2 separate regions of the Homo sapiens genome follow, and region 2 is linked to region 1. The links come from fine-mapping of genetic effects on gene expression. A gene starts in region 1. The other region holds a variant in brackets. All regions are shown on one strand. Distances are from middle to middle. Region 1 holds the start of SLC5A10 (solute carrier family 5 member 10). Region 2 overlaps EPN2 (epsin 2).

Region 1 (9,365 bases):
CGACACCAGAGAAGGCAACTCCTACATACCTATGATACCACAACACCAGAGAAGGCAAATCCACAAAGAGGGAAAGTAGATTGGTGGCTGCCAGAGGCTTGGGGAGGGGGAATGAAGATGATGCTTAATTTGTACAAGGTTTCATTGGAGAGGATGAAAAATGCTGGAATAGGCTGGGCGCAGTGGCTCATGCCTGTAATCCCAGCACTCTGGGAGGCTGAGGTTGGTGGATCACCTGAGGTCAGGAGTTCAAGACCAGCCTGACCAACACGGTGAAACCCCGTCTCTATTAAAAATACAAAAATTAGCCAGGCGTGGTGGTGCGTGCCTGTTATTCCAGCTACTCGGGAGGCTGAGGCAGGAGAATTGCTTGAACCCAGGAGGCAAATGTTGCAGTGAGTCGAGATTGCGCCACTGCACTCCAGTCTGGGTGACAAAGCAAAACTCTGTCTCAGAAAAAAAAAAAAGAAAAGAAAAATGTTGGAATAGGTAATGGCGATGGGTGCATAGTGTTGTGAAGGTGGTGGAAACCACAGACTGGTGTACTTTAAGGGGTTAAAATGATGGATTTTATGTTAAATGCATTCTCCCTCAATAATGATAAAAAAAGAATAGGTTTCTGGGATTGAAGGGCCTCAGGGGCCTCAGCATCTGAAGATTCCTCAGTTGCCTGGGCTCCTTGGACCTCTTGCAGTGATGTGGCAAGGGTAGACCCTGTGCCGGTCACTGGAGGAGCGGGGTGACGGGTGGGTGGGGGCAGATACTACTGTGTCGTGTGGCAGCACAGCCACTAGCCCAGCAGGGCCAGGGATGCACAGAAGAGGGAGGAGCCAAGGAAGGCTTCAGAGAGGCAGTGATGTCTCAGTACCGTCTTGAAGGATGAGTAGCAGTTCACCAAGCAGACTGAGAGGTAGGGGGACTTGAGGACACCCAGGGAGGAACTGAGGGCAGCAGAAGATGGAGCTGGGTCGGGGGAGGGCCAGGTTCCAGGGCCCCTGGTGCCGAGCCCAAGGCCTTGCACTTGATCTCTGGAGCAGTAAAGGCTGTTGAAGGTAAGTTTGAAACAGGAGTGTCATGTCCAGGGTTAGGCTTTTAGGGTGTTCTGACATACTGTGCGTGGTGAGTAGATTCAAAAGGATAAGACTGGAGGCCAGGGATCAGTCCCTCCCCACCTGTGCTGGACGCCTGGTCTGCATCGGTTCCATTACCTCCCAGCAGCCCTTCCCGGCTGCCTTCACTTCCCTTCCACTCTGCTGCTCTGCCGGCTGAGCTCAGGGTCCTCCCATCCAGGTGCCCACTCAACCACTCCCTTCGAGGGCCTGAGGCTTAACAGTCCAACCTCCATCACTCCCTGCACAAACCCAACCTCACCCAAAGCTCAGTGGGCTTGGCTGGGACCCCAGGGGAGGAGGGGGGTCATTCCTTCCCACTGAATACCTGTCACGAGCCATGCTGGGTGGTGGAGTTTAATGTTAAAAGGGCAGATTCGAGAGCTGGACAATTTGGGTTCAAAGTCCTCCTCTGTCTCTTAGTTGCTGTGTGACTTTGAGCAAGTTCCTCTGTTTCTCTGTGCCTCGGATTTTCCATCCCTCAAGGAGTTGGGAGAGTTGAGGGTGGACGATGCGTGGGCACATGGTGACTGCTCGGTAGGTGTCTGTAACCATGGTAAAGATGAAGCTGTGGGCTGGCCCCTGGGGTCCCAGCCGAGCCCACTGAGCTTTGGGGAGGGTGGGTTTGGGTGGGGAGTGATGGAGGGTGGACTCTCAAACCTGAAGCCCTCAAGGGGAGTGGTCAAGAGGGTACCTGGATGAGAGAATGCAGCGCTCGGCCAGCAGAGCAGCGGAGTGGAGGGAAGTGAAGGCCGCCTGGAAGGGCTGCGGGGAGGTGACCAACCAATGCAGATGCAGGTACCCAGCACAGGTGGGCAGGTGAGCATTCAGGAAATGGTTGTCTGGGACCCACCACCCTTCACAAAGCACCTGGCAACACTCTCCTTGAGCCTCTGTATCAGTGGAAGGAAACTGCTTGACCTGGCTGGTGAGGGGAGCCCAGGCAGGGTCGGGGGCACCCCTAGGGGCCAGCTTGCTGGTCTAAACCAAGGCCAAGGCCAGAGGTCTTACAAAAAAGCCCAGCCCACACCAAAGCATAAAAAGTGATAACTTGGGCCGGACACAGTGGCTTACGCCTGTAATCCCAGCACTTTGGAAGGCTGCTTGAGCCCAGGAGTTTGACAACAGCCTGGGCAACATGGTGAGACCCTGTCGCTATAAAAAAATACCCACAAAACTTTGCTGGCTATGGTGGTGCATGCCTGTAGTCCCAGCTACTCAGGAGGCTGAGGTAGGAGGATCCCTTGAGCCCAGGAGGCTGAGACTGCAGTGAGCTGTGATTGTACCACTGCACTCCAGCCTGGGCAATAGAGCCAGACATTGTCTCAAAAAAATAAAATAAAATAAAGTGATAATTCTCCTTTCTCCTCTCCTTAGCAGTTTGGTGTGTGTCCTTCAAAACACTGTGGCTGTTCAGCCCCTTACATTATATATAATGAGAGGATAAACATGGATATGGGTCTATATTCTCTAGCTTGCTTTTTTCACTTACAAGTGTATCATCCTTCCATGCCATTATATAAAGCCACCTCATCTTTTTAATGGTCATGGTGTTCCATGGTTTGGAGGTCTCATAATTCACTCACCACCTTCTCTGGGTGGTTATGTAGGAAATTTCTAAACTTTTTGGCTGCCCTGAGCACGCTTGCCCTTGTAGCTTAGGACTCTTGGGGAGTTTCTCCATCAGGACAGACAAGCAGACAATACTTAGCAGGAATAAATGATCAGTCTTGTGCTTATTGCAAAAGCAGGAGCAACAGATAAGCTGGAACTAGACTTGGCAGGCAGGCAGAGAGAGGCCCTGGAGGGATTCGCTGCAAGCTGCCGCAGATGACCGTGGGCTCCCTTCATGGGCTCCCTTCACTCATGTGCAGTCCGTTCCAGTGCTGCCCAGCTCATCACATGGTTGGTCATGCCTTGGTCACAATTCTGAAGCACTTAAGAAAGAAACTCATAAGCTCATAGATGCCCCACACACAAGATACAAATGGCTCCAGTCGTCCTGCTTAGGCTCTGCTGACCCCTCCACATCCCGTTCCTGGTTCTCATGAGTCTGAGGGACTTCTTCCGGGGATGGAAGAGGCTTCAAGGGGTGTGGTACGGATGACTTCTCAGCTAGGACGGTCTTCATGTTTCTTGGGGTGAGTGAATAGGTGATCCCGTTGGGTCAGGTGGGGTGGGAATGTGGGTGTGACTGGGCTTCGGGTGGCGTTTCTTCTCCCGCAGACATGGCTGGGCTTGTTTGGTACTTCTCCCTCCATGTCCTCCGCTGCCACCCTCCTCCTGTCCCCGTCCTTCAGGACAGAACCAGCAAATCAGTCTCAGCCCCTTAAGAGCACCTTTACTGGTGCTTTCTTTCCCTAGGATTTTTTTTCTCTTTTTTCATTTTTTTCCATTTAAACTCAGTGGCAAAAATCCCAAGGACTTTTGATCCAAAGGCGGCAGTTATCACTAAGTGGTTTATTTCCTTCTAAGACCTAGCCAACGGTCTCAGAGCCAATGCTGCTGGTACAACTACTCTATTAATGGGATAGTTTTGGTAAGTCTGGATCCTCCCAGCTGGGTCCTCCTGATCAGTGCAAAGCAGCCTTTTGTTTTAAAACACATTGCAAGCAATGGCTTGGGAAGTAAACACCATCTGAGGCTCGCTGGCCAGAGGCAAGGGGAGACGGCAGGCAGTTGAGCCTGCCTGAGGGTTCTCTCAGCAGTGACTTCCTTTTTCCCTTCCTTCTTCTGCCTAGTCCTGTATGTGAGGACTATTAATTGTTTTTTGTTGTTGTTGTTGTTTGTTTTGTGAGATGGAGTCTCCCTCTGTTGCCCAGGCTGGACTGCAATGGCGCAGTCTTGGCTCACTGCAATCTCTACCTCCTGAGTTCAAGCAATTCTCCTGCCTCAGCCTCCCAAGTAGCTGGGATTACAGGTGCGTACCACCATGTCTGGCTAATTTTTGTATTTTTAGTAGAGACGAGGTTTTGCCATGTTGGCCAGGCTGGTCTCAAACTCCTGATCTCAGGTGATCCACCCGCCTTGGCCTCCCAAAGGCATGAGCCTCCCAAGGGCATGAGCCACTGCTCCTGGCCGAGGGGATTAATTTTTACCCGCACCTCAGGGTTATTGAGTAACAGGCTGGCTGGGTTTGCAGGCCAGCGTGTTCCTGGTGGCAGCCGCTCACTCATTAACACTTCTGGAAGTGCTGCATGTCTGGTTAAACTGCAAATGCTTTGCAAAGTCACGAGTCATGTCACTGAGCAGAGGCGTGAGACTGCCGGCCAGCCCTGCTGTGTACACTGATAGAATTAGTGAGCGAGCGTCCCACTCTGATGGAATCCAGATGGAACTCGTCACTGTCACTGCGGTGGAGACGGTGGGGCCACATCTGCACTGAATCCTACTCTGCGCCTTCAATGGCTGCGTAATGGCGGATGGCCATTTCCTTGACTAGGATGAGACATTGCCTACTCTGCGTGGCTGCTGTGAGCGTGAAATGGGATCATGTGCGGAACAGCCACGCATGGTCCGTGAAATGGGATCATGTGCAGAACAGCCACGCATGGTCCTTGGTGTGTGACAGATATTGGGTCCCTCTGTGGTCCCAGGCAGACATTGCCCGGGGTGGGGGCCGAATGCATGGTCAAGTTGAGGGGCCTGGGACTGTTTCACGGGTCTAGAAAAAGAAAGCAGAAACGCTGGAAGCAGGACTTTATTGTCCGACATGGGGCTGCCTCTGAGCCTGGGCTGTGTTGGCTGGACGTGAGCCATAATGCAGGTGTCCCCCTCCCAAGCCCTGCTCAGTCCACTCACAGCCCGATGGCCAAGGGAGGACATGGCTGCCCGCCACGGCAGTATCTTCAGAGGTGAGGCGGTTGTCCCTACGCTCTATGCTTCTTATACAAATTAGATATAGGTGAAGCCACCCATTAAGCAACCCAGCCTTTCTGGGACTATTTGGGCTGCCTCCGGGTCCACTAAATGCGGTTCATTTTCCCCAAGCCCCCTCCGAGTTCAAGGAGGCTCCTTCCTTTCCTCCTCCCACTTGCTTCTCCCAGGCTCCCTGACTCCTGCGCTCTGGGATCTGCACCCCACCATGGGGTGAGGAAGCTGAACTGCATGGTGAGGCAGCTGCCCTGCATGCAGCCACATCATGGGCTGGAGATGCCACTGTCCGCTTGGTTTAATGATCAATGAGCTCCCTGCCAGGAAACCCTTTCTGACCTGGTTTGCCCCTCAGTCCCTCGGGCTCATACCTAGTGCCTGCGGCAGGACAGCCATGGCCGCCAACTCCACCAGCGACCTCCACACTCCCGGGACGCAGCTGAGCGTGGCTGACATCATCGTCATCACTGTGTATTTTGCTCTGAATGTGGCCGTGGGCATATGGGTAAGGGGACCTGTGGTGGTGTTGGCCAAGTGGGCTCTCAGGGTTGGTGCTTGGGGTGGGAACCGGGGTCCAGCATGTCCCTGTGGTGTCAGCATTGGTCCCAGCTGGTGGCCTAGTGATCCTTGTGGTCCTCCTCCCAGCCTGGGGTAGACTTGCTTGGAGACCTTGACCAAGCCCGTTTCTCTCTTTGGGTAATGGCGTCTCCATCTGCAAAGTGAGGAGGAGGAAATTCTCTCTAACAGGTAACTGGGCTTTTGTGCTGCTGCCCAGCTGGAGTCCTTGGGTGTGGCCCATCAGCCTCCTGGTCCCAGTCTCCATGGTGTCAGTGACTCCTGTCTGCTTGAACAACAGGCTCCCCGGGATTCCCTGGCTGCACCCCAGAGCTGCTGGATCAGAATCCGGAGGCAGGGAGGGCCCTGGGAACTGGGGGTCTTTATTTTGAACAAGCTCCCTGGGGATTTATGTCCTGTGGCCTAGCCCTAGATCATAAGCCGGTTCTTTCTCCCTTCATAACAGTGAGAAATGAGCAGAGATCTGACCCCACACACAGATTCCAGGGGCAGCGGGGCCCCTGGGGACAGGCTGTTTCATGTGCAGATGGAGAAACCGAGGCTCTGGCCCTGCAGCAAGGGAAGGGCTCCTCTGGTCTATCGTGGAGGCCTTCCTGAGGGAAGGTGGACACAGCCTGGTTCAGGTCACCTGCTCCACGCTTAGCGCCTGGGGATGTTGGGCTCCACTTCTTAAGCCCCAGAGGTCCCCAGCCTGGCATCCCTGAGCCCTGACAGTCTCCTGGGGAGAATGAGTACCCCTTCTTTTTTTTTTTTTTTTTTTTTAACTGAGACGGAGTCTAGCACTGTCACCTGGGCTGGAGTGCAGTGGCACTATCTCGGCTCACTGCAACCTCCACCTCCTGGGTTCAAACAATTCTGCCTCAGCCTCCTGAGTAGCTGGGATTACAGGCGTCCACTACCACACCCAGGTAATGTTTTGTATTTTTAGTAGAGACAGAGTTTTACCGTGTTGGCCAGGCTAGTCTCGAACTCCTGACCTCATGATTTGCCCGCCTCGGCCTCCCAAAGTGCTAGAATTACAGGCGTGAGCCACCGCGCCCGGCCGAGTACCCGTTCTTATCTTCCATAACCCCTGGCCTAAGCACGAAGGCCTGGCAAACAGGAGACTGGTCACGTCCCCTCAGCTTCCTGGGCCTCAGTGTTCTGATCTGTTATATGGAGACACCACCTACCTGGGGTGAGGTCTGCTATCAAGGGGCCCACACAGGACCAGACCTTGCTGCTGCCATTGGTTCTACAGTGGTAGCAGTGGTGGTGGTGGTGGCAGTTGTAGCAGTGGTGATTATAAGAGTAGCAGCCGCAGTCATTAAAATTAATTATCACAGGTTGGATTTCAAAAATCTGAAACCCAAAATCTGGAACATTTTGAACACCAACATGATGCTCAAAGCAAATGCTCATTGGAGCATCTCAGATTTTAGAGTTTTGGGTTGGGGATGTTCAACTGGCAGGTATTCTGTAAGTATCTCCAAATCTGAAAGAGTCCGAAATCCAAAACTTTTCTGGTTTCAAATATTTCGGATAACGGCTCCTCAACCTGTATGTGATTAAATATTAACTCACAAGTAGCCCAGTGCTGGCCATCGGCAAAGCCGAGTTCAAGTCTCGGCTCTGCTCTGTGTACTTAAGTCACTTAATCTCTGTGGGCTTCAGTTTCCTCAAACACGCAATGCGGGTTTCTGTGCAGCCCACATCTCAGGGCTGTTCCAAGGAGCAAGGGTCCAATGGAAGTGAAAATCTGTTGCAAACTGTAACGTGCTATATTCCTGTGACAGTTGGTGGCTAGAATTCAGAGGAGGAGGTGCCCACGTGGGGCAGAACAGACAGTGGAGGGTTTCTGGATGAGGGGAGGTAAGGGCCAGGCAAGATCTGAAGAGGGAAAGAGGAGGGGAGACAAGGCTGTCCTGGCTAGCACGTCTAAGAAAGATGTTCTGGGCACCTGAGGCCAGACCCTTTGTAGCCCAGTGACTTGGGCCACCAGCCCTTGTTGCCCATGACCCACCTCTCCTAGTGAGTCAGCTTGCTGTTTGCAGGCTGGTGCCCCTGGAAGTAGGGCTGTAGGAGTTCTGCCCTGTCCCTCCTAGCAGGCTAGGCTGGCCCAGCTGGGAGCGGCTGGCAAGAGAGCAGTGAGCACATCCAGAAAAGATCAGAACCAGACAGGGAGGATGCTGGAGATGCATCCCACAGGGAGAAGCAGACAGAGCAAGCCAGGCAGGTGCAGCCCTGCAAAGATGTTTAGATGGTGGGCCTGGGAGAGTCTGGCGGGGGCCGGGGGGAGGCCTTTAAGGAAGAGATGTTCCTGGAGGAGGGGACTTTGAGCTGAGCCTTTGCATTCATTAAAGTATCTGTTAACAAGTGACTGAAAACTGCTTTCAAATGAGCTCTAAGAATATAGGAAATGTAGGCCGGGCGCAGTGGCTCATGCCTGTAATCCCAGCACTTTGGGAGGCCTAGGCGGGTGGATCACGAGGTCAGGAGTTTGAGACCAGCCTGGCCAGCATGGTGAAAGCCCGTCTCTACTTTTGTATTATTTTGTGATAATACAAAAATTAGCCAGGCGTGGTGCCAGGCGCCTGTAATCCCAGCTACTCAGGAGGCTGAGGCAGGAGAATTGCTTGAAACCGGAAGGCGGAGGTCGCAATGAGCTGAGATCACGCCACTGCACTCCAGCATGGGCAAAAGAGTGAAACACTGTATCAAAAAAAAAAAAAAAAAAAAAAAAAGAATTCAGGAAATGTAATTGTGTCCAGCAATAGAAAGGGCTTCAGGTGCAGTATGATCCAGGGATTCACAGCATTATTAAGGATACAGCTACACCTCACTTTGGTTCTCTCAGCCTCCATCCATGTGTAGCTCTGTCCTAAGCCCAGCTCCCCTCGTGTCCTGATGTGAAATGACCAGCCCTGCGATTGAGCCTGAGTTGAAATCCAGGCTGCACCACTTGCTAGATGGGTGTGTTTTCATCTCTGAGACCATCAGTTTCCTCATTGGTAACATGGCACCTGCTTCATAGAGCTGTTGCGAGGACTAAGAACTCCACACAGATCAAGAAGTTGAAGCCAACTCTGGCATGGGGGCCTTCGGGGAACCTTAAATGGGTACATGTGGCCCCCAGCAACTGCCAGCAGCCCCCAGAGCCCCAGATATAAGAAGGCAACTGGCAATGCCCACTATAGGCTTGAAAGATGAGAAGGGTTAGGAAAAAGCATGGGCTGTAAACATAGATGCTTTGGAGTTGTGCAGTGCACAGCGTACACATCTGGATATGGCCATCCTGGCCAAGACTGTGAGCCTTCAGACTATGCTGCCTTTAGTACAGCAAGATCACGGCACACAAAGAGAAAGTGGTGGGAGTTGGAGCTGGAGAGAGGCAGGAGCCACATCAAAAGTTCTGAACTGGGTGTGGTGGTGTCCACGTGGTTCCTGCTACTCAGGAAGCTGAGATGGGGAGATCACGTGAGCCCAGGAGTTCAAGACCTGCCTGGGCAACATAATGAGACCCTGTCTTAAAAATAAAAATAAATAGGCCGGGCGCGGTGGCTCATGCCTGTAATCCCAGCACTTTGGGAGGCCGAGGTGGGCAGATCACCTGAGGTCGGGAGTCCAAGACCAGCCTGACCAACATGGAGGAACCCCATCTCTACTAAAAATACAAAATTAGCCGGGCATGGTGGCACATGCCTGTAATCCCAGCTACTAGGGAGGCTGAGGCAGGAGAATCGCTTGAACCCGGGAGGCAGAGGTTGCGGTGAGCCAAGATCGTGCCATTGCACTCCATCCTGGGCAACAAGAGCGAAACTCTGTCTC
Region 2 (9,365 bases), 340 kb after region 1:
TTTTGTGTTACCCTGGCCCTCTAGCTCTCCCGCTGGCAAACTGGCTTTCCTGGGACGTTTGCATGTTAAATACAGCCTGGCAGGCCTGCAGGCTGGCCATCTTCCCCCACTGCGGCTGTCTTTGGCCCTGCCTCTGCACCTTCGCCTGTGCCATTCCGTTCTCTCTGCTTGGATATCGCTCCCACCACCTGCCCCCTGTTCCCCCAACCTGGCAAGTTGCTTAAGGTATCCACCCCGTGTGGATTTATGTTGTCCTTCAGCCCTGATAGGAGTTGAAGATAAAAATGAGTATTTTTTTCTTTGAAGATTTCTCATGCCCCAGATGAGTTTTGAGCAAACAAGTGTTATATGGATTGCATTTCATCCTTTAACTGTTGGGTGTGGCATCCTCTCCACATCTCACTCCCTCCCCGTCAGAGGGTAGGGGGCTGTCGGAGTCCAGGGCAAAGATTCTGGCCATGTTTCTTCTCTGTTCTTTCTTGATGCTTCACAAAGGGTTGAGTATAAGGTAAGTGCTTAATCTATGCACACCAGTGGATTTGTTTGGAGCACACCTTCTTGGAAATCAGCAGTGGGAAGGTCAGAATGATGCCGGCCATTCAGAAAACTGTCAGGTGAGATGCAGGCTGTGATTCAGGAGAGATGTTTGTGAGGGGTGCATTTGGGACTGCAGACCCCACAGAGGCAGAGGAGGCAGACTGCTCAGAAGCCCTCTTCACATGAGAGCAGCCACAGCCGGGAAGGCCTCTTGTGTGACTGGCGATAATCATGAGGATGTCTGAGGAGAGCTTTCTTTCATGTGCCATATGTCATCTCATCCTCCCTGTGCCCCTCCCTCTCTCTCACCTCCCACATAGATCTGTAGATCTGACCTTGGAAGTCTCTTGAATTGTCCATCTTGTTCCATGGCCTCAATTCAGTGCCAGCCTTCTGACCAATTTCCTGCTGTCATTATCTCCCAGTCTCACCTACCCTCCATCTTCATAAAGGATGCCCTGGTCCTGAGTCTCAGCCCCTTTAGATGCCAGGCCCTGCAGGGCCATCCCAGAGCCTTTGACGTTGCAGACCTCAGTTGCTTCCACCAGCTGTGTCCCCTGCCCTCAGTCTGGGGGTCCTCCTGTTCCGGCGGAAGCATTCCAGACCTTCCCAGGCCTGCTGACGTCTGCCTGCAGGCACAGCTCTGGGCTTTCCTTTTGAAGCCTGGTCTACCTGCCCTCTGCTCTGTATTTATTGAGTTCCCATGGGGCACCAGGCACTGAGCACAGAACAGAGCCCCTTGCCCTCGTGGAGCTTATATGGTAATGGGAAAGAAAAACACAATATAAATTATTCAGCATGTTATGTAATGAGCGCTCTGGAAAACAGCAAAACAAAAACAGTCTTGCTTGAGTGTCTTTGGGGAGGTAAGAGAGGGTGGCTTGCAGTATGAATGGATCAAGGATTGAAGGAGTGTGAGGGTGAGCCTTGTGGAGGTTGGAAAGAGCCTTCCAGGCAGAAGGGCAGCTGTGCAAAGGCCCTGAGGTGGGAGTGTGCTCAGGGTGTTTGAGAAAAGGCAGCCAGTGAGGTGGCGATGAGTGACGGAGCATGGCCAGTATGTGGGGGTGGAGCGTGGCAGAGGTGGGCCTGGAGGAGGTGTGGGGCAGGGCCTCTCAACTCTGTCTGGTTGGGAGCATTCCTTGAATTCCTAGTCCATCCAGACGGGTCCTTTTGTGTCCATGTTTAGATGTTGTGCCGATGTCATTGCTAGGAGCTTTTGAAACACTTTCACTGTGCTTACCTTGCAGACCATGCACTCAGTGGCCCGGTGCTGGGCCTTCTGGGTTTATGTCAGAAATTTCTTTGACTTTCACTCACAGTGAGATGGGGGAAGATGAGGGTTAGGAGGATCCCTTGGGGTGTGTATGGGCAAGGTGGGAGCAGGGAGCCAGGTCAGGAGGCCACTGTCCCCATCCAGGTGGGAGATGGTGGGGGTCTGGACCTGGCAGGGCTGCAGAAATCTGGGCAGTAGCCAGGTTCTGGGTATGTTTTTTTTTTTTTTTTTTTTTTTTTTTTGAGACAGAATCTTGCACTGTCACCCAGGCTGGAGTGCAGTGGCACGATCTCCGCTTACTGCAAGCTCTGCCTCCCGGGTTCACGCCATTCTCCTGCCTCAGCCTCCCAAGTAGCTGGGACTACAGGCGCCCGCCACCACGCCCGGCTAATTTTTTGTATTTTTAGTAGAGATGAGGTTTCATCATGTTAGCCAGGATGGTCTTGATCTCCTGACCCCGTGATCCGCCCACCTTGGCCTCCCAAAGTGCTGGGATTACAGGTGTGAGCCACCGCACCTGGACGATTCTGGGTATGTTTTAAAGATGACCTGACAGACCTTGCTAGAGGACTGGGCAGAGTGAGAGGGGAGCTGAGGATGACTCTGAGGGCTGGGAGCAGAGCAGCTGGAGGCAGAGCTGCCATCATCTGAGATGAGGGCGGCTGTGGGTGCAGTAGGTTAGTGGAGGGGTTGAGTTCAGGACACATCGAAGTGTCTCCTAGACACGCAAGTGGAGGTGTCAAGAAGGTCTGAGAAGTCTGGAGTTGGGGGGAGAATTCTGGGCTGCAGGCACACTTTGGAAGTTGTCAGGGCATGGACAGTGCTTATAGCCGTCAGCTGTTCGGCCTCACCTGGCGCTCATGGTTTTTTTTTTTTTTTTTTTTGAGATGGAGTCTCACTCTGTTGGCCAGGCTAGAGTGTAGTGGGGTGATCTGGGCTCACTGCAACCTCCGCCTAGCTGGCTTCAAGCTATTCTTCCTCAGCCATCTGAGTAGCTGGGATTACAGGCACATGTCACCATGCCTGGCTAATTTTTGTATTTTTAGTAGAGATGAGGTTTCATCATGTTGGCCAGGTCTTGAACCCCTGACCTCAAGTGATCTGCCCAGCTCGGCCTCCCAAAGTGCTGGGATTACAGGCGTGAGCCACCATGCCTAGCCTCTGGCACTCATGTTTACTTGGTGGTCTTGTAATTTCAGACACACCAGCTGCCCTCCCAAGGCTGGCTCCTCTTAAGGCTTACCCGTGTTGGCTGCCCTCACATGATCCTGGCATGTAGTCAGTGCTCAGGACAGTTGTGTGTGGGCAGAAGCTGCGCAGCCCAAAGGAGGACCCTCAGGCCCAGGGGGTTGAGGGATTTGCCTAAGATCACGCAGAGATGGCAGCTGGCCTGAACTGCAACCTGGTGGGGGTGAGCAGCCCACATGTTACCCGCCCCCCGGGCTCTTTCCACCATTTCCTGTTCTGTTCTGCAGAACTGGCCACAGTGTCAAAAGGCTTTGGAGAAATTACAGAAGTTCTTGGGGTAGACGGAACCTACATCAAAGGGAGGCAGATGGGGATGAGAAAAGCATTCCTGAGTCAAGGAATGGAAAGAAAGATTGCTGCTGTCCTCTCACCAAGGACACTCTAAGGCCAGGGGCCAGATCTTCTGCCTTGGCTGGCCTCTGTTGAGGGTGGGTAAGGGAAGGAAGGAATGCTCAGCTTGGTGTTCTCAGCCCCCTTGCTGAGTCTGCGGAGCCAGAGCTACAGCTGTCTTGATGCTCCCTGAGCAAGTCCCGAGTTGCCTGGTACCTTGCAGTTCTTGGTGGGAGTTTAACTGCCCAGCATTCCCGTTCTCAAAAAAAAAAAAAAAGAAAAAAAAAGAAAAAGGAAGGCAGGCAGAATAGAAATCTTCATTGCTTTCTGATTCACTCAAGTGAATCAGAACCAACTTGGGTTCTGAAACCAAAGTAAGCAGTGGTGGGCTTTGTACCAGGTGGGGGCTGCTGCCTGCAGCCGGGTCTTCTTGGCTCTCCTCATGGCCCCTCCTGTCTTGCTGACGCCGCTGGCCCTGGCTGTAGTATGCTTCAAGTCTGCTCCCAGAGAAATGACAGGGATTCCTTTGGGCTACTGGTCCTCTGGGCTGAGAGCCCCTTGTGCTGAGGCTGCTCCTCTCACACCCCACCCGGCAAGGGTTTGCCAAGTGATTACTAGAAAGGATTTGAGTTGGCTTATAAAACACATGCAATGCCACAGGATTCAATAGATACCAGAAGAAATTGGGGCAAAAGGAAAACAGAGGTGAGAAAGAAAAGCCAGGATTGTATACAGTGGCTAGAGATGGATCCAAATTTGGTTTGATACTGTGCAGCTGGGAAGGCCAGAGTGTCAAGCAGCCTGCCCAGGACTTCATGGAGCAGTGGCCGTGATCATTGTCCTGCGGCATCACCCCAACAGCTGCTGCTGCTGTCCGCCAGGCCTTCGGGCCATGCCTCCACTCTCGAGTGGCCTGGCAAGAATCTAAGGGGAAACAGGATTTCTCAGGGAGTGGAATGGCAAGGCTATCCACGGTTATCAGCCATTCATTTTTTTTTTTTTTTTTTTTTTTTTTTTGAGACGGAGTCTCGCTCTTTCGCCCAGGCTGGACTGCAGTGGCGCTATCTTGGCTCACTGCAAGCTCCGCTTCCTGGGTTCACGCCGTTCTCCTGCCTCAGCCTCCTGAGTAGCTGGGACTACAGGCGCCCGCCACTGCGCCCGGCTAATTTTTTTTTGTGTTTTTTGTAGAGATGGGGTTTCACCGTGTTAGCCATGATGGTCTTGATCTCCTGACCTCATGATCCACCCGCCTCGGCCTCCCAAAGTGCTGGAATTACAGGCGTGAGCCATCGCGCCCGGCCTCATTCTTAAACCCAATGGGGACTTGGTAGAATTTGAAAGCTTTCTTGTGCGCTGTTTCATGAGTATGTCCAGGAAGTCCCCAGGCACAGTGGGCCCTCAGAGGACTCTCTACGGAAGCTGTCTTCATAACAAGGGAACCTCAGGGGTGAACCAGAGTTGTCATGGCCTCAGCCCTGCTTGCCCAGCTCTGGGAATAGAGCTGAAGCATGCGCACACACAGACACATGTGCACTTACACCAGACATGTACACACAAAGGAGAGTGTTTTGGTAAGAAGGAGGCATCTGAAAAGGGAGTCCTACATGGGTCTACTTTTGAAAACTCAAAGATGTGGGAAAATATATTGTTAAAAAAAAGAAAAGCCAAACCCAGCCAGCGTGTCAGAAGTGCTTCTGAGGTGGACCTTGGAAGGATCCTGGGCCAGCTGAGGTCTCCTGAGAGTGTGGGAGGTGACAGAGCTCCAAGGTGCAGGGCTGAGTGATGCTGCCAGGAACTAGGAGGGCAGCAGGGCCCGCCCGGGGCTGAGAGGTGGTTGGTGGCCACCAGCCAGGTATTTCCTAGTGTCAGGCCAGGGATAGCTACCTGTGGGGAGTGTGTCTAGCCCTCAGGGCCCTTCCATTGGGTTTTGGGGATGGACCAGGAATTTGGTGGGAGATGAGACTCATTTGGCATCTTGTTTTGGTGGAACAAATGTGTTCTGTAAGTCAGGGGAGCCCTGCATCTTCGGCTGGCAGTCAGTCCCAGGGGCAGAGGCACAGCAGGGCTGTCAGCGTTAGCTTACTCTAGAGAGAGTTAATCTCTTCAGGTGGAAAATTGAGTCATGGAGGAAGCTGATCAGTAACATGAACACACCCTCAGAGGCAGCAGATTTATTGACACATCTATCCAAGTATCAGGTATAAAAGATGCTCGTTCTTGCCACAAGGGCTTGGGTTTTAAGTGGGATTTGAATGTGATTCGTGAATGGCTGGGCTGCTAAAGTCAGACAGTTGCCCA[A/G]CACAACCAGAAGGCATCTGGATCACCTCTCCTGGGCCTTTGCCTTCTCTTAGGAGGAGTCCATTTGCTTCTCACAGTTGTCTAGAAGGTAGGCAGGGCAGATGAGGTTAATAAGGAAACTGACATGAACTTGCTCCCCTAAATCCTCTCATTTGTAAGTGAAGAAGCTAGAATTAGAACTGGGATTTTGAAGAACTCTGGTTCTCTTTCCTCTACTTGACAGTTTTTGAAATTGCTTTAAAATTTTTTCTGCAAAATAGGCAAATACGGTGTACACCTATTACAATTTTAAAATTATATGGTTCATCTTATATAATGCTTTTTTCTGTATTATTATTTTTTTCTTTTTAAGATGGGATTGGCTGGGCAGGGTGGCTCACGCCTGTAATCCCAGCATGTTGGGAGGTTGAGACGGGCAGATCACCTGAGGCCAGGAGTTCGAGGCCAGCTTGGCCAATATGGTGAAACCCATCTCTACTAAAAATACAAAAAAATTAGCCGGTCATGGTGGTGGGCACCTGTAATCCCAGCTACTCAGGAGGCAGAGGTGGGAGATTCGCTTGAACCTGAGAGGCAGAGGTTGCAGTGAGCCGAGATCACTCCAGCCTGGGTGACAAGAGCGAAACTCCATCTCAAAAAAAAAAAAAAAAAAAGACAGGGTCTTGCTCTGTTGCTCAGGCTGGAGTGCAGTGGTGTGATTGTGGCTCACTGCAGCCTCTACCTCCCTGGGCTCAAGTGATGCTCTCACCTTAACCTCCTGGGTTGCTGAGACTACAGGTGCATGCCACCATACCCAGCTTTTTTTTTTTTTTTTTTTTTTTTTACTTTCTGTATTTTGTAGAGGTGGGGTTTTGCCACGTTGCCCAGGCTGATCTGGAACTCCTGGGCTCAAGCTATCCTCTGGCCTCGGCCTCTCAAAGTGTTGAGATTACAGGCATGCAGGCACAAGCCACCACACTCAGCCAGGAATACCTAATTAAACCATTATTTAATTGGGCCCCAGATCTTAAGGAGCTCCTCTGATTGTCAGAATATGGGATTGTTCTCAGAATTGAAACAGTGCTATCAAGGCTGGGCGCGGTGGCTCATGCCTATAATCCCAGCACTTTGGGAGGCCGAGGCTGGTGGATCACTTGAGGTCAGGAGTTTGAGACCAGCCTGACCAACATGGTGAAACCCCTGTCTCTACCAAAAATACAAAAAATTAGTCGGGTGTGGTGGTGGATGCTTGTAATCCCAGCTACCCAGGAAGCTGAGGCAGGAGATTGCTTGAAGCTTGGGAGGCAGAGGTTGCAGTGAGCTGAGATCGCACCACTGTACTCCAGCCTGGGCAACAGAGCAAGACTCTGTCTTTAAAAAAAAAAAAAAGAAACAGTGCTATCAAAATTGCTGATTGGGAGGCCGGCTGCAGTGGCCCATGCCTGTAATCCTAGCACTTCGAGAGGCTGAAGCAGGTGAATTGCTTGAGCTTAGGAGTTTGAGACCAGCCTGGACAACACAACAAAACCCCATCGCTACAAAAAAAAAAAAAATTAACCAGGCATGGTGGTGTGCACCTGTAGTCCCAGCTACTTTGTGGGGCTGAGGTGGGAGGAATCGCCTGAGCTCAGGAAGTCCAGGCTGCAGTGAACCAAGATTGTGCCACTGCATTCTAGCCTGGGTGACAAAGCGAGACCCTTTCTCAAAAGAAAAAAAATATTGGGGATTGGGTTATTGATTAAATGATTGACATTGGCGTGTGCCATAGAAAATGGATCAATACAATATTTACCTGTTTTTTAAGGATCCTTTGTAGTATAGGTAAACAAACTATTGTTTATAAACTGTCAATAAGTGTAGAAGGTTTCTCGATGCTTTAAGGTTGAGTTTAGCAACAGTATGATACATAGTTGTTAGTTTTTGTTTAGTGATACAAGGCAGTTCCTCATTTTGACAGTTGCCTTTTCTTTTTTCCCTAAATCACTAGCTCTCAAGCTTTTAAATCTCCCAAAATGTCCCAAATCCTGGGCCACACCTTTGCCACACTTCTCAAATGAGAATCTCTGGGAGGGCCCCAGGTACTGCGGTGGCACTGACAGCATTGTACTGGGGGCTGCTGGTTCCCTGTCAGATGTTTTAAGTCAGATTGGCTAGCATAGTCACAGCTGCTGACGGTGTCTTTATTCATGGATGCTCAGTACAGCAGTTGCTAGTTTCAAATAGACAACTTCCAGGAGGCATTAAAAAAAAATTATATGACTAGAAACAGGAGGGAAGGCATGCAGATAGATTTGTCTTCCCATGGGAAGTAGGCCATATAAGTTAAATCTCTCTCTGTATCATATCCTTTTTTACTATCTTCAGAGTCTTTTTCACTACCTGAAATTCTCTTATTTGCTTTGTTTTGTCTCCCTGCACTAAAACAAGCTGTTAGAGCAGGAGCCCCGTTCATGCCCCGTGCTGTATCCCTAGTGTCTTTAGCACAACACCTGAACCAGGAAAGGTGCTCAGAACATACTTCATGCATGAGTGCTAAATAAGCCTCTCTTCTCCTCTCTCCTCACCTGAGGGCAGGAGTTCGAGACTAGCCTTGCCAACGCAGTGAAACCCCATCTCTATTAAAAATACACACACACACACACACACACACACGCGCGTGCGCGCAAAATAGCCAGGTGTAGTGGTGCATGCCTGTAGTCCCAGCTACCTGGGAGGCTGAGGCAGGAGAATCACTTTAACCCAGGAAGTGGAGGTTGCAGTGAGCCGAGATCGTGCCATTAGACTCCAGCCTGGGTGACAAGAGTGAAACTCCCTCTCAGAAAAAAAAGAAAAGAAAAGAAAAAATACATTTGAAGTCAATTCCAGAAATATAGGAATGCCTTATATATTTGTGTGGTTTCTCGATGCTTTAAGGTTGAGTTTAGCAACAGTATGATTCATAGTTGTTGTTTTTGTTTAGTGATACAAGGCAGTTCCTCATTTTGACAGTTGCCTTTTTTCCCTAAATCACTAGCTCTCAAGCTTTTAAATCTCCCAAAATGTCCCAAATCCTGGGCCACACCTCTCCCACACCTCTCAAATTAGAATCTCTGGGAGGGCCCCAGGTGCCGCGGTGGCACTGACAGCAGTGTGCTGGGGGCTGCTGGTTCCCTGTCAGGCTTTAATCAGTTGAAGGGCTCTTCCTCCCCTCTCCCCTCAACTCATGGCCCGTAGCAGTGTCTTTTTACAGAGTTACAGGCAGCTAGGCAACACTCCAACTTGGAGCAGCTTGGAAATTGATATTACACATCAAATTAGTCTCCTCCTGCTGACTGCTAATGGAAAGCTTAGTCCAGCTTAGTCCAGCTTGCAGTGGGATAACCAGAGCTCCTCCCGCAAGTCCACTCTGCGACCTGCTTCTCCAAGTACAGTGAGGGCATGAAGTCATTCATTCTATTTTTTTTTTTTTAAACTGGGACAGAGTCTCACCCCGTCACCCAGGCTGGAGTGCAGTGGCGTGATCTCGGCTCACTACAACCTCTGCCTCCCAGGTTCAAGCAATTCTCATGTCTCAGCCTCCCGAGTAGCTGGGACTACAGGTGCGTGCCACCACGCCCAGCTAATTTTTGTATTTTTAGTAGAGATGGGGTTTCATCATGTTGACCAGGCTGGTCTTGAACTCCTGACCTCAGGTGATCCACCCACCTCTGCCTCCCAAAGT

Evidence for each region. PIP is the estimated chance that this variant, and not a neighbour inherited with it, causes the effect.
Region 2: its variant is fine-mapped to the expression of SLC5A10 in whole blood (TOPMed, PIP above 0.99).

Annotation. Positions count from the first base shown.
Region 1 is chr17:18,946,830-18,956,194 of GRCh38, forward strand. SLC5A10 (solute carrier family 5 member 10) reads left to right here and starts at 5,336. Exons shown (of 15, transcript NM_001042450.4): 1 at 5,336-5,487. The coding sequence starts at 5,377. RefSeq lists enhancers at 419-1,032, 1,033-1,646.
Region 2 is chr17:19,287,051-19,296,415 of GRCh38, forward strand. The region is part of intron 4 of EPN2 (epsin 2); the gene reads left to right. Among named protein-coding and RNA genes, the nearest start is that of EPN2-AS1, 15 kb to the right of the region's middle. RefSeq lists an enhancer at 2,570-3,163. The variant A/G (reference allele first, on the strand shown) is at 5,687.